Regions from separate parts of the Homo sapiens genome. Here region 1 is linked to region 2. Evidence: fine-mapped expression QTL. Tissue or cell type: nasal epithelium. Region 2 holds a variant in brackets; the other region holds the start of a gene. All regions are shown on one strand. Distances are between the middles of the regions.

Region 1 (8,107 bases), 66 kb before region 2:
ATGCCTGTGTTCTACTCTATGACAACACTTCCAGATTGCACAATGCAAAACAGAAGCAGAAAAGAGAGAAAACAGAGATGAAAAGGAATAGCCTGACTCCACCAAAGATGCCAATCAAATGGGAAGTGATAACAAATCCTAGGTACCAAAGTGAGACTAAATAGCCAAAGAACTCAAAATCAAAGAGCAGAGTTCAGAACCAGTGCTGACCCAATGTGTCAATGCAGACTCAACTGTGTGCAGTGAGGCACAAGAAGCCTTGGTGGGTACTGCACCTGGCAGAGAACTGGGATCCATGGTGACATGCAGTGCAGACAGTATCTCTGTGGAAACTTCAAGAAAACTACAGAAACAAGTGAAGCTCACACAAATGAAAACAAACAGAGGCTAATTATTCAGAGCTTGCTCTAGCAAGGGAGTTGACCACCATCACTTCTGCTTAGTAGAGACTCAAAGGCAGGAAGGGGAGTGAGAAAACTTCATAGTTATAAAAGGGGAAGGTTTCAGGTATGCTCTGACTGGATCTTGCTGTTGGAAGCTGGAGGCAGGCTAAGTAGGAGCAGGGCATTTTGTGGTTTGGGAAGCATATTTAACTTTCTCTGATTGATCCTAAGTTGGAAGCAGGGGCAAAAATTGGGGAAATTGACTCATTGAGCAAGACCTAATTCTTTTGGGCCATTTGCTGCAGCAGTTGTAGTTTGATTTCTTGGACTGGTTGCTGCTAAAGTGTTTTTGTTTCCTGAGCTGATTGCTGCAGAAACTGTGGGTCAGAGTTAGTTGTATTGCTATTTATGGTCTGGCCATTGCCCACTTGCATATTTAGTCTCTCACAGTAGAATCCTGACATTGTAGATATTAAAAAAAAAAAACTGCCTTTAAAATCAAAACAATTGAACTCATGGAGAAAGAGAGTAGAAGGATGGTTACCAGAGGCTGGGAAGGGTAGTGGGAGAGCTGGGGGAGGAAGGTGGGGATGGATAATGGATACCAAAAAATGGAATGAATAAGGTGTAGTATTTGATTGCACAACAGGCTATAGTCAATAATAATTTAATTGTAAATTTAAAAATCACTAAAAGAGTATAATTGGGTTGTTTGTAACATTATGGATAAATGCTTGAGGTGATGGATATCTCGTTTTCCATGATGTGATTATTATGCATTGCATGCCTGTATCAAAATATCTCATATACTCCATACATATATACACCTACTAAGTACCCACAAAAATTTAAAATAAAATTCCTTTTAAAAATAAAGAAAAAAACCACCTACCTAATGGACCACATTTTATTTTTTAGCTATTGAACTAGCAGTCACACCATAACAGTATTTGTTCATTCAACACTTTAAACTTTTTAATGTACTTTCAAATACATCATTCTCCCTTTTATCCTTACAACAACCTTGTGATCCTGAGAGGTTAATTACTTGAGGTCACTGAATGACTTTTGGCTAGAATAAGGATTAGATAATATTACAGAGTGACTTGTAATATATAACTCAAATTGTTAGGTATAGATAATCCATACAAATGGCTTTAAAATAAATATTTTGGGTTTCATGCTATGATGAAGGATCTGTTCCATTTGCTTCCAATTTAGTTGCGTAAAGTTGAGATAAAATCTTGAAGGAAGGGTCATAGCACCATTTAAATACCCACAGGTCTGTCATGTGGAAGAAGTATTAGGTTTATTCCTATGACTCCAGAGGGCAGAACTAGTACAAGTGAGTAGAAGACAGGCAGATTTCAACTAAGAATATGAAATGTCTTTCTAATAATGAGACACTTGCCCCCAAAAGAAGGTGTTGACTTGTGAAAGAACCAGTTCCTCATCTCTTATAGTGTTTAAAAAGAACGCCATAATAGAACTCCATAATCCTAGAGACTCCTTTAACTGGTCACACCAGCTAACCTCCAGGACCTTCGTAGATTTCAAGTTTATGAAATGTTGTTGAACTTTGAAAAGAGGCACAGATATTTTGAATACAACAGTTTAAAGTCATTCAAATTCTGGATGAAATTATTTCGTTATGCTCCTCAAAAACAGTGAGTTCTATTTGAAGTTTTACCCCCAGACTCTCCTTTGAATTAGTATTTTTGCCCATATACCCATATATTTTCAAGAAATTTCTTTCTTTCCTTCCTTCCTTCCTTCCTTCCTTTCTTCCTTCCTTCTTCCTTCCTTCCTTTCTTCCTTTTGAGATAGGGTCCTGCTCTGTCATCCAAGCTGGGGTGCAGTGGGGTGTTCACGGCTCATTGCAGCCTCGACCTCCCGGACTCAAGCAGTCCTCCCAACTCAACTCCCAAGTAGCTAGGACGACAGGCATGCACCACCACGCCCAGCTATTTTTGTATTTTTTGTAGAGATGGGGTTTCATCATGTTGCCCAGACTTGTCATGAACACATGGCCTCAAGCTAGCCCACCTCCCACTTCAGCCTCCCAAAGTGCTGGGATTACAGGCATGAGCCACTGCACCTGGCCAAGAACATTCAAAACTTTAAAACTGAAAATTGTCCTAATAAGGAGTCTACTAACTTAATCTTCCATCAGCATTGTTTTCTGATTTCACAGAAAACTTTACAACAAATGTATTGCATTCATTCTTGATGTTTTAAGAAATTAAAGGAATTAGACAAGGTAAAAACAAAAACAAATCTATCTCTTTAAAGATGGCAAGGACTAGGATTTTAATCTGTAATCTTAAATTTTTGAAAAAGATCTTTTCCTTCTTAATGACTTCTTTTTAAATGGTCCTTCAGGTTGAACACAATTACATTCTTTTATAGTATACAGTAATGAAGCTGAAATAAAACAGTGAGTTCTCTTCCACACGTAAATTGTGATTGTTCAATGTTCTGCAAGGTCTTCTGATGGCCCCATTCTCACCCTGCTCCTTACCTGCCTCTTTAACTCTTTAAATCTAATCCCCTAATTTTTATCAGAAAAGTATTTCCTTTTTACGATAGGCTGTGGTTTCTGCCTTTAAAAAAACAATCCTGGGGTTTCTCTCAGAATCTGGAAGAAGTCATTGCAATGGTAAAGTAGGTAAGAGGCTGGGGTGGAAAGAAATGCCTTCTGCATAAATCTAGTTAGTCTGAGTCGTTTTTTGACAACTTCCGGGACCAGACTTCAGGCAGTGCTGGAAATTGTTCTCTTTACCATATCTTTTTTTTTTTAACTGTACATATTTACATACATACACATATGGTGAGGGAGAGAACGTGATGACGTGAGACTCTCCATGGAGAGTAGGAGGTAATAAAGAAATAAAACAGGTGTCTGAGGAGAGGTTCTATTAGAGAGGGGAGAATAGAGAGTAATTATCGTTCAGACAGGCAAGAGTTCTCTGCAGGTAGCAGCCTGGGAAAGCGAACTCGCGCACCCTCTTGGGGGACGGGCTCTTTTGCTTTCTATTTCTTCTCCTGCAGCCAGGGTGCACACGTATTTGAAACAGACCGAATTTCCTCCTCGATGTGGCGTCAGGTTGACTTTTCGAGACTAGCGGGTATTTCTTTTTAATGACTCCAATGCCTTTTTATTATTGCTGTTATTGAGGTTGAGGGAGAAGAGATCGGTCTAAATTCTGGCTGGGTAAGTGGGGGGATTCTCGGCGATGAGAAACGGGGGACTTAGAAGCCGGAGGAAAATCAGCAGCCCCACATCTCCACTTCTCCAGTCCGCCCTACTCTCCACCCGTGACCTCCAGTGGAGACCCCAGGCGGCAGCATCAGTATTTGATCGGCCCTTCGTCAGCACGCTGCCAGCCCTGGCCGGCTGGGTTCGCCAGGCATCACCCGCTCGGCTCTGAAGCGGACGCCTGGCCCTGCACCGGGCTTTGGAAGGACCCTCTCTGCGCTCGCCCCCTCCCCAGGGTGGCTCCGCTTTCGAGCCCGGGCGCGGTGCCCACCATGCGCGGCTGCCTGCGGCTCGCGCTGCTCTGCGCGCTGCCCTGGCTCCTGCTGGCGGCGTCGCCCGGGCACCCGGCGAAATCCCCCAGGCAGCCCCCGGCACCGCGCCGCGACCCCTTCGACGCTGCCAGGGGCGCCGATTTCGATCATGTCTACAGCGGGGTGGTGAACCTCAGCACCGAGAACATCTACTCTTTCAACTACACCAGCCAGCCCGACCAGGTAAGACACTCGCTCCCCTCGCTCGACTCCTAGAACTTGCCAGATCTCAGAGCCCCGTCGCTGCTTTGGAGTCCCCTGGGAATTGACCTTGGGAGACTTCGGGGACCAGGGGACTTTCTTTCCCTTTCTCCTCCGAAGCAATCGCTGCCCTGCCCTAGCTGCCTCAACACGCCTCGGGGACAACTCTGCTTCGCCTCGCGCCTCTCCTGGCCTGGTCAAGGGCATTGCTGGGCTTTGCAGAGGCACCAGTTCCCCGCACCGTCTGCGGGTCCTGGGTCCCTGCTGGGTCTTTCTCCAGGAAAGTCCTGATTTCTAGGGTTGCGGGGTGTGGTGTGGAGTGCGAAGAAGAACCGCACCTCGGTTCCTAATCCCCTGCAGGGAAGAAACCTAATTTCAAGTGGCTGATTCAGCCAGACCCTTCTATTTCATAGCGCATGGGGAGGGAGAACTGCTCAGAATCTAAAATGGAAATTGTGTGAAAATGGACGGAAGCTGCAGAACCTCTGTGCATTCAACAGTCACTTCCTGCGTTTTTGTGCCATTGTCACACGTTGTGCTTCAGAGACGCCAGAAGACCTGGGCAAAGACGTGAGAACTGCAGCCATCAGCTGATCAATCCAGGTTTTGATTTTAAATAAGGATGGATAATTGTGTGAAAGTTCTAGACCTATTTTTGACAAAAGTTGAGGGAAGATAAGGAGGGAAAAATGTTCCAGTGACTATCCCTTTGACATATATACTCCGATTATATAACGTAAGAAGATGCATATAGTTCATTTCTTTCCTCTAGTGTGGTACCTCTGGAGCACTGGGCGGGGAGAGAGAGGGAGACAGAGAGAGAAAGAGAGAAAGAGAGACAGAGACAGAGACAGAGACTCCCCAGTGTACCAACCTCTGGATCTTCTTCCCATATAAATGTGTTTATGTATCCCTTACTATACCAGCATCCCCTACCCTCTAGGGAAATTCCAGAACTAGATGATTGGGATACCATGATATGCCTCCGTCTGATTCTCACTCCAGATCGGAACTAGAAAACCTCATCACTTCCCAAAGTGAGGGTGGTTTGTATTGAGCAGGGGGGACCAATGTGCCTAACACTGCTCCTAGACATCTTCCAGCTGTGTGTAGCCAGAAAGTGCCCTGAGTGCCCCATCTCCAGTGTGGCACCAAATCCTATGGCACTGTTACCATGGCAGCACAGCCCTCACCCTGCTCTGTCCTCCAGTAACCTTCAGGTTATATGTTCTGTAGTGAGCAGAGTGGCTGTATGCAGAGCCATTTCATGGTAGACAAGGGAGAGGCTGCAGTTTTTGTTTCCCAAACGCCATATACCCAGCCTCTTTCTATCTAGCGTGGGAGAACTCATCGACTGGTTGACATGTTGCACGTGAGGTGTGTTCCTAGTCCTGTGATTGGCTGGGAGCAGAAAAAAGTCTGAAAACTCCATGATCTCTGGAGTAAGTCTCAGCTTCCCCCTAAATCATTGGTAAGAAAACTCAAATTACATGTGCTAAGTAAATCCTGACATCAGGCTTTGGTATTTCTTGCAGTTCTGCATAGAGATAGAGCATCTACTTATGAATTGTTGCCTTTACATTTTCCCCTTGTACTGTGTGAGTTTTGCACTTGAGATCACCTGGTTGACTTCCCTAGTAAACCTTGAGATATTGAGGGCAGGGGCAAAGTCATGTTCATCTCTGCCCTCCAGTACCTAGCACAGTGAATGGCACATAAGAGGTTTATAAGCCAGGCATGATGGCTCACACCTGTAATCCCAGCACTCTGGAGGACAAAGTGGGAGGATTGCTTGAGACCAGGAGTTCAAGACCAGCCTGGAAAACATAATGAGACCCTCTCTCTACAAAAAATTAAAAAATTAGCTGGGTGTGATGGCACATGCGCCTGTAGTCCCAGCTACTTAGGAGGCGGAGGCAGGAGGATCACTTGAGCCCAGGAATTTGAGGCTGCAGTGAGCTGAGCTCTTGCCACTGTACTCCCACTGGGGACAGAGTGATACCCTGTTTTTTCAAAATGTTTTTTTTTTTAAAGAAAAGAGAGGCTTATAAAAAACATTTAGTGTTTTCCAAAAATGAACAAATAAGTGAATAAAGGGTTATTAGCTAAGGCTAAATAAAATGAAATGTATACTGTTTTCAATTCAATAGTTTGGAAAATGTGAGATCATTTCAGATAAAAACATAAAAACAAATTTCTTTCATAAAACAAATTTGGTTTTTATAAAAACACATTTTAAAAATTGTTCTATTATGCCCTATTTTGTCTGTGTGTGTTAACATGTCCTTTATTTTATGAAACAGTTTTGAAAATATTTTTGAATGACACAGTAAAAGGTTGATGACCCAAGCAGTCCCTAGAATTTTTGTTAAAATATTACTAGTCTGAGAAATACAAAGTTGGGAACCATGGGAACAGGAGATAACAAGAATTTCAATTATTTTAGTGCCAGTATTCTCAATATAAGCCAAATGTCCTCAAATCTTACAGCCTTCTGGGACCAATCTTTAATATGCAAATGCTGTAGTGGAGCCCTCAAAAGCCACTTATTGTGGGAAATTAACCTCCTGTCCTACCAGCCAGTATTCCTGTTGCTTTCTCCAGAGAAGACATTTTCTTGATCTGTCTGTCCAAACCATTACCTTCGGTTCCTACTCTCTTCTTAGTTCTTCTTATCCTGCATAAGATATCAGCAGCCCCTTCTTGCAGGTACACAAGGCTGTTGGATGTAGCAGAATTTTACTGAAGGTTTGGAATAACATAGAGGAATGACATCACAGCACAAGATAGGTGATAGATTAAATCAGAAACCTAGGCCATACTGTTCCGACAATTTACCACCAGGGGGATTTCAAGATAGCGACGCTCTCTTTCAGGCGCTGGTTTGTCACTATCTTCTTGGCCATCCCCTCATACCTCCTCAAATGCTGACCCCCACCCACTAAATTTTTGTTACTCTCCCATGTTGTGCAATTTTTGCCATCATTGCTTATCCTACACTCACTAAGAGGCTCTGTTAAATAGAGATGTATGACCCCAGACCTACGATCTTTAGAGCAGAAGCTTGGACATGACTGGTTTCCCTTTAACCTGAACAAAGTCTTGATAAGGTAAGTCTTTCTAGCCTGCAGGGTCATTGCCCACCTCCCCTCTTCAGTGCAACAAAGAATTTGGTTTAGGGAAAAAAATGGCTAGTTTTTGAGCTTTAATCTTTGTTTTCCTCTTTCTTCAAGCCATTGTTGCTTGACATTATTTTTCCTGTGCCTTGGAGGAGAAAGTCTATTCTAAGTTTAGGCTTAAAGACAGGAAGCTGTTGTGGGAGCCATTGCTCCTAATCTTTCCTGTCAGCCACTGCATCTCCCATACCAAACTGTCCCAGAGAACTATTTTGCCAAGCTTGTGTCATACTAGTTAGCTGCACTCAGCACCAGGAAAAGTCTCATATGCCTTCCAGGCATAGGGTAATGTAAATATGAAGTTGCCTTCAAAAAAATCACTGAGAGAATGGAATGACTGCTTCAAATAAGAATGATGAAAATAATAATTGGAGGTGCAAGTTAGGCAAGATCATGATTCATTTCATTTCTCTGGAAGGAAGTGTCTGGAGACTCTCTTTAAGAGGAGGAGGGCTATACTGTGCAAACAGGGTGTTCTATAACCACAGGGCTCAGCCAGGCTAGAAGGAAACTAACTTGTTGGGAAAGTTGCCAGGGATATGTTTGACTGGGACAGAAGGCACAAATGCAGGTTTACTGGGAAATGAGAATACTCTTGTAGAGACAGTTGGCAGCAACAATCAGATGTTTCTATTTGAGCTAGATGGTGATAAGAAACCCTTAAATAAAATCTAACCACTGGGCAACAGGCTGTCTTCTCTGAGGTTTTCCTGTAAGAATTTAGTTTGCCATAGATTTTTTAATTTGAAATATCTCCCTGGAAGTATTTCTTTTATC
Region 2 (8,107 bases):
GGTCCATTTCCCTGCCATTCCCTTGGCTTCAATTTACTCCCAGGGCTGGCAGTGACATGGGTCAAGGCTCACACCTTCACCTGGCAGCACCAGAGGGAAGGACCTTTTAAGAAGCCCTCAGCAACTTCTTGTGTTTCATTGGCCTAGAGTGAATCATACACTTATTGTTAAACCAGTCACTGCAAAGAACAGATTTACCTACACATCAGATAAACCTACTTTCAGAATTAAGATTAGGTCCTCTTCTCTAAGACCAGAGTTTCTCAAACTCAATATTATTGACATCATAGGCCAGATAATTCTTTGTTGTTGGGGGCTATTCTGTATCTTATAGGATGTTTAATAGCATCCTTCACTTCCGTGCACTAGATTCTAGGAGTTGCCCCTCCTTGGGACAACTAAAAATGCCTCCAGGCTTGGTGCAGTTGCTCATGCCTGTAATCCCAGCATTTGGGGAGGCCGAGGTTGGAGGATTGTTTGGGCCTAGGAGTTCGAGACCAGCCTAGGCAACATAGTAAGACTTCGTCTTCATAAAAACAAAAAATAAACAAAATTAGGTGGGCGTGGTGGTGTGCACCTGTGCTCCAGCTACTTCGGAGGCTGCTATGGGAGGATCGCTTGAGCCCAGGATGTTGGGGCTGCAGTGAGCTGAGATCGCACCACTGCACTCCAACTTAGGTGACAGAGCAAGACCGTGTCTCAAAAAAAAAAAAAGCCTCCAGACATTGCCAAATGTCTTTTTGGGGGCAAAACTCTTTCCCCACATCCCCCTGTTTGAGAACCATGGACCTAAACACATGAAGACACCTAAATAACACACCAGCTTAGGTAAGAAGTAGGGAATAGGAATATTCACCACACAAAAGTCTTGAAATAGGAAGAAAATAAGGAACCTTTGTAAGGTAGAGAGGCCACAGGGAATGATGGCATCACCCCCAATGTCATGACCACTGGTGAGTCAAGACCTAGATGCTTAAACCAAGAGCAGAAGACAAGCACTGCCCAAGGGAAGAACCAGTGACTTTTTTAGGCATCTCAAACAGAGCATAGAGAAATCAACCAGGAGCAAGAGACAGAGGCAAGTAAGGACCATATCTGGAAGCTAGTGACAGACATTCAGGGAAGAAACAAGGATACAGAAATGTCTTTCTCTCCCAAGGCCAGGATCAGCATGACCATGGGGCACAGGAAGTTCGATGGAGCTCAGAGTTACAGGAAATGCCTTGGGTGCTTATATCCAGAGAAAATGCTAGAAGCAGCTTCTTAAAGGGGAAGAGGATCCCACTAGACTTAATACGGTCTCTGCCCACATCATTGTGGAGCTAGATATCTGTGGAACTTAGCCTAAGGCTTTCACCTTAGACGTGACTGAAGTGGAAGAAATGGAATCAGGTCCCTACAGGTTGCCAAATTGGTGGCAGCTCTGTTGGAGTTAGGAAGGATGCACTCAGAAAATCTGTGCGCTACTCTGCATTTGTTTTTCTTTGATATGCCTGAAGTGATTTAATTAAGCTGTATGTGAAAATCTCCATGTTAGCTCCAACTATAATAAAAAGCAAAAAAATGTATTTCATACTTCATGGGATGAAGAAGAAGATTAGACCCTGGAGCCTGGGTGAGATGGAAATACTGTTGGCAAAGAGCTGCTCCAGGGGACTTGAAGGGACTTTTTTACTGTACTATGAATGACTGGACCCTGTATTGTCTAATTATCCTTAATACCAAAGACAGGGCATCTGTGAGAATCTGAGAGGTACTAAGAAAGGCTCTGTGCTCTAAAACCATTTCCTCCACTGGCTTTATCAGAGAGAAACCCCACATTTCACATCATTGTTAAAGAGCCTCTACAGAAATTCAGTTACCAGCTGAGAAAAATAATGAAGCCTCCCCAACAGGCCTCTGGGACCCCTTGAGTTGCCACCAGGAACTGGGGTACAACAGAAGAGGAGGTTACTTTCTCAAATGCAAGAGCTTGGCAGGCCTAATCGGTTGTAGATTTAAGAACCAAATGGCCAACCCAATCCTTCCCTGGATACAGCCATTACTGAACCAGCCTCTTAGCCAAGAGCAAGATCTGGTGGAGATAAGACAAGGAGAGTGTTGAATTTGGAGGACTCAAGGAACGCAGGCCATTCAGTGACAAAGGGTCTCAAATTTTAGTCCTAGATCTCTACTCTTCTTTTTCTAGTTTTCTTGTCCAGCTTTTTCTTCTAGAGGAATTTTACTTTTACATCCATCTGCAAAGATGATGGTTTTCTTCATTTTTTCTTCAACTATTGAAACAAAACGTGACACTAAGTTGGGATAGGTAGGCAATTGGCATAAAAATAAAATTTTGGCTGGGCACGATGGCTCACACCTGTAATCCCAACACTTTGGGAGGCCGAGGCGGGTGGATTGCCTACAGTCAGCAGATTGAGACCATCCTGGCCAACATTGTGAAACCCTGTCTCCACTAAAATACAAAATATTAGCCGCACATGGTGGCATGTACCTGTAGTCCCAGCTACTCAGGAGGCTGAGGCAGGGGAATCACTTGAACCCGGGAGGCAGAGGTTGCAATGAGCCGAGATCATGCCACTGCACTCCAGCCTGGCGACAGAGCGAGACTCCATCTCAAAAAAAAAAAAAAAAAAAAAAAAATCATGCTAGCTAGTTCCCATCATTTCTGGCTCCCTCTTCAGCTTCCAACCTGCTGAGTCTTCAGAGACATAATGGGACAAGGCAACTATAAATATGAAGTCCCTGAAAGACGCAAACATGCTCAAAATGAAATGAAATTTTTCTCCTCACATAAGGCATTTACCATAAAAAGCAAGCGTGCAAGCATATCCTGTTCTATGTCAGTGAAGTAGACAGATGCAGGGGGCTCAAGCTCAGAGAAACACATATCAAAACAAGTTTCCTCATTAAGATGAGATCATTCACAATCGTAAGTGTCTGCTATTTCCAGCCAGAACATCTTGGTCTGTCTTATAAGCTGATATTTTGTGTTGAATTATGCTTTCTATGTACTATACAGTTAAATATAGATATGGCTTGCCTTCCCAGACCATACTTGACGTTTAGAAGGAAATGCCTTGGTTTTTGCATTCTTAAAAGGCTTTAGACATAAGCAAAATGAAAAGAATACTGTTATCCCATGTTGGCCAATCTCATATTTAATTGGTGCATATAAAAGTCCACAGAATGAAAACATTTTTGCATGCTGGCAATGGTATTGCACATGAAAATCTTGGTGCTCTTATCTGTCACAGAACCCATGATGTTGCAGCTGCCTCAAAATGAACAGGGCCAGCAACAACATCAAAACCAGATCATGCTCAGTGATGAGCCAGAGCAGAAAACAGAAATCAGTGATTCCTTAAAGTCTGAACAGACCTACACAGCTGGCTTTGTCTTTTTAGTGAAGTTGTCACCTAACAAAACACTGATTGTTTTTGTTTGTTCACTTGCTTTGATTTTAGTTTTTGGTTTTTGTTTTTCTTTTGATTACACACACAGACAGAGAACATTGGCTCCCACGAACAATTTCGACCTCCTGCTACAACTGACCTCCAGTATTTTCTTATACAAACTTCAACTTCCCATATCAGAGGACTTCCAGTGACACCAAAATGCACTATGTGCACGTAACATCAAAACATCATGTTGTACATCTTAATATATACAATTAAAAAATCTTTTTTTATAGAAACAAGTTTTCACTGAGACCAATTCAAGGAATCACTATCCATCCACTATCTGAGTGACTGGGCAAATTACTTGATCTCTCAGCATCTCCCTTTTATCATCTTTAAAACATATGGTAATATTATATGATAAAATATATGGTAAAATATATGATAATATTCTCAGCATTTTGTGATTTTAGTGTCATTCTTCATTTACTATTTGCACATTTAATAATTTTCAAAATTACATTTCAAATAAGGACATAGGTTAGTGACTTAAAATAAGGAGCTTAGACCAGGCATGGTGGCTCACACCTGTAATCCCAGCACTTTGGGAGGCCAAGACTGGAGGATTGCTTGAGTCAAGGAGTTGGAGGCCAGCCTCGTCAACCTAGGGAGATTCTGTCTCTACAAATAATTTTTGAAAAATTAGCCAGGTGTGGTGGCATGACCCTGTGGTCACAGCTACTCAAGAGGCTGAGGCAGGAGGATCGCCTGAACCCGGTGGTTGAGGCTACAGTGCGCCATGATTGTGCCACTGCACTCCAGTCTGGGCAACAGAGTGAGACCCAGTCTCAAGAAATAAATAAATAAAATAAAATAGGGAGCTTGAAAAGAGAAAAATGTGAAAGATACTGAGGGGAATGTAAAAGACCTACAACATCATCTAGGAATAAGAGCAACCCAGGGGTTCCATGAGACTCCCTGCAATAAACTAAACAGAAAGAAGATGCAGGATGACCCACGCCAGTGGGTAATCATTGGCAGGCAGCAGCTGCCAATCTAAAAAGCAAAAGCTGTGCTTTTTTAAAATGTGAGTTTATTACAGTGGAGATGCAAATGAGCCTCAACCTCTTTGTCTCTTTAGAAAGGTATTCTTGAGCACTATATGAAAGTAACATATTTACTACCAATTGTTCTTGTTTGAAGGAAAATTCCTGTCTTTTCAGTTAAAAAGATAAGTTTTGTCTAATACAACAGAAGGTTATTCAGCCTTTAAGCAGGATATGCTGCCATTTGCAACAATATGCCTTCCATGGATAAACATGGAGGATGTTATG[C/G]TAAGTGGAATACACCAGACACAGAAAGCAAAGTACTGCATGGTCTCTCTTATATGTGAAATCTTTTAAAAAGTAAAATACATAGAAATAAGGAGTAGAACAGTGAATATCAGGGACAGGGAGTGGGAGGAAATTAGGAGCTGTAAGTCAAAAGGTACAAATCTGCAGGCAGGTAGGATGAATAAGTCTAGTATACAGTAGGAAGAATATATATAGTTAATAATATTGCATTCTATGTTGAAAATTTGTGAAGAGAGTAGATTTTAGGTGCTCTTATAACAACAAAAAAGAGGGAACTATGGAAAGTGATGGATATGTTAATTTGCTTAGCTATAGCAATCATTTCACTATGTGCACGTAATATCAAAACATCATGTTGTACATCTTAATATATACAATTAAAAATCATTTTTTAGGCCAAGCATGGTGGCTCACGCCTGTAATCCCAGCACTTTGAGAGGCCAAGGCAAGCTGATCACTTGAGGTGGGGAGTTCAAGACCAGCCTGGCCAACATGGTGAAACCCTGTCTCTACTAAAAATACAAAAATTAGCCAGTTGTGGTGATGTGCACCTGTAGTCCCAGCTACTCAGGAGGCCGAGGCAGGAGAATCGCTTGAACCCGGGAGGTGGAGGTTGCAGTGAGCCGAGATCGTACTACTGCACTCCAGCCTGGGTGACAAAGTGAGACCCTGTCCCAAGAAATAATAATAATTTTTCATAAAAAAAAAATAAGTTCTCACCGAGACCAATACAATGAAACACTATCCATCCACTCTCAGAGTGACCAGGCAAATTACATGATCTCTCAGCATCTCCCTTTTATCATCTTTAAAATGGTGATAATAATATTATCAACCTCCTAGGGTTGTTGAAAATTTAAAAGACTAAATTCCTGGAAAGAATTTAAAAGACTGTCCTACACAGTAAGTCTGCAATAAACATCAGTCAGTAGTAATAGAGGTAGTACTGGTAGCAGCAGCAGTAGCAGCTGCAGCAGCAAAGCTCTATGCTGTAACTATGGCCAATTCTGTTCTAAGTCAAAAAGAGTCAGGCAAATTGCACACAACATCTTCACATGGCACTGTTACTGTGCTCGAAAGATTTGATCTCTCATACTTAACAGTCTGAAGGTAACCTGTTTCTTTGATTTGAAGTTGGTTGAAAAGCATAGATGGTATTGATGACATGTTACATACTTATGGGTCAGCCCAAGAAAGGCCAGGGAACACCTAATTTCCCTAAATAAGAAGAAATTTATGAGGGGATCTCCAAGCCTAGTAACAGTGCCAGGGAGCATGCATTCTGAGGGCCAAAGTCTGCATTTTGAAGGCCAAGATCTGTGTGCTAAGGGCCCTGGGAACAGCTTAGGCTGCCAAAAATGCTGCGTTAGCCAGAAGCCTTGCTGTCCAGCTGAGCCAGCTCTTGGCTAAACCACCAAAGAAGAAAAGAAATTGGATCTCCAAGGCCATTGCATTAGTCCTTATAATTAAAGTTTAAGTCCAAAACCTGGCTAAAGGTTTTGAGTTTACACTTTAATTATTTTTCTTTATGGGGGAAATTAATGGACACATAAAAAATTTAAAACATGCTAAAAACCTACAAAGCTGGCTTACAAAACTGAGTATTTTTATTGTCCACCAATGGAAATGATGGCTGTGTTTCAGTAGAACTTATACATAAATACTGAAATTTGAATTTCGTATCATTTTTACCTGTCATGAAACATTATTCTTCTTTGGATTTTTTCCCCAGTCATTTAAAGGTTTGAAAACTAATCTTAGTTGAAGAGCCATACAGAAACAGGTGGCAGGCTAGATTTGGCAGATGGGTCATAGTTTTGGTGACTCCTGTATTAGTGTAAAAAGAAAATCAAACCTAAAATAATGTGCCCTGATGATTCAAGCTACTTAGAATAGTGTTGTTTTGTTTTAGCAACTGGACATAAAGTGTTTGCCTCTTCACTTTTTTTAACAGGCTCTGGAAATATGGTGGCATCTCATCCCATTGCTGCCAGCACACCCGAAGGGAGCAATTATGGGACAATAGGTATGTCCTACCAGGTCTGTTCATGAAAGTGTTTCCTAATTCTGCAGAGAATATGATAGAAAGGCATTCCAGCCACTAATAACTGGGAATGTGGGCAAAGCAGCTATCCTATGAGATTGTCTTTTATTTGTAAGATGAGTTGCTTGGAGATTTGGAAGCTTCCTCCCAGCTCTAACTTTCTCCAGTTCTGTTGTTCTGTTTCTTGGATCTGCTAGCCCCACTTGGGCAGAATTCCTTCAATGTTTGCCATCTAATACTAAGGCCCCCTAGGGACTTTTTCATATCCAGCCCGGGTTTAGGGCATGAAAGATGTGTCCCAGGGAGCCTGACATCAATTGACCAGTTGTTTCATTCTCAGGTTTCAGTGGAGTAAGGGGCGATCAGAAGACTGAGGCAGTGCTGCAGGTGAACATGGCTGTAGCCTACCAATCCTTCATTTTGGCTGACTTCATAATTGAACCTGCTCACTGCCACCCAGTCGTTCACATGGCAAACCCCAGTGTTCCTTAAGTGGGCTGAAAAGAATGGAATCCTAGACCTGTCTTGTTAGAGTAGAAGCTCATTGAGCTGCCTGCCCTTCCATATTGCTTGTGGACCTATGAATGGTGCTCTTTAAAATGTCAGTGTAGAGGGACTGGGAATCCTGTATTCCTGCCCTATCATTCTGTAACTTTGAGAAGCATGTGGGCTCAGTGCAGACTACTTATTTTTAGTTCTGTTAGAACAGGATTTTTAAGAAACCATCTGAACAGAAGAAATAAAGCGGAAGGTAAGCTCAGCTCATGTGCCCATCAAGCTGCATAAATCTCCATCTGCTCTGGGAAACATTCATGGGAACAGAAGGATTCTTCTTCCTGAGAATGTTGTTTTCATTATATAATCATAGATACAGCATGTGGGTGATTTCTGTGTACAAATACTTTACCCATGAGAAATGTATAGCTGTTAGATATGTGTGGGCTCACACATATATGCAATAGATGCTATACATAGCGATGTGCATGTGTATTTGTATATATTTATGTTCATATTTTAACATATGAAACATGAAATAGAAGTATAATATTATTTTTGTATCCAAATAGTTAACAGAGCAGATGCCCTTAGATTCTAATATGTGTTCAGTCCTGAAGATAGCCAAGTTAAATATAAAAACAGGAGAAGAGGAAAAATAAAAGTCCATTGAGAAGGAATAGAGAGAAAGAACAGGTCTTGTGAATGAGAAGTTCATTTGGATCAACACAGCATTTCCTAGAATGAGTCTGCACTGTGCTTTTTGCAGAGACGAATGGGCTCCGTAGGCTCTCCACGGCTTTTGATGGCAG

The links. PIP is the estimated chance that this variant, and not a neighbour inherited with it, causes the effect.
Region 1: it holds the start of SIDT1, and the variant in region 2 is fine-mapped to the expression of SIDT1 in nasal epithelium (TOPMed, PIP above 0.99). The same link has a PIP of 0.9 or more in cerebellar hemisphere, cerebellum, cerebral cortex, lung and whole blood.

The regions. Positions count from the first base shown.
Region 1 is chr3:113,529,108-113,537,214 of GRCh38, forward strand. SIDT1 (SID1 transmembrane family member 1) reads left to right here and starts at 3,448. Exons shown (of 25, transcript NM_017699.3): 1 at 3,448-4,136. The coding sequence starts at 3,915. RefSeq lists enhancers at 2,840-3,059, 3,080-3,269, 3,410-3,739, 4,210-4,339 and a silencer at 4,010-4,059.
Region 2 is chr3:113,594,878-113,602,984 of GRCh38, forward strand. It overlaps SIDT1 (SID1 transmembrane family member 1), which reads left to right. Exons shown (of 25, transcript NM_017699.3): 11 at 6,711-6,782. It overlaps MIR4446 (microRNA 4446), which reads left to right; the gene lies at 1-65. Among named protein-coding and RNA genes, the nearest start is that of MIR4446, 4.1 kb to the left of the region's middle. The variant C/G (reference allele first, on the strand shown) is at 4,736.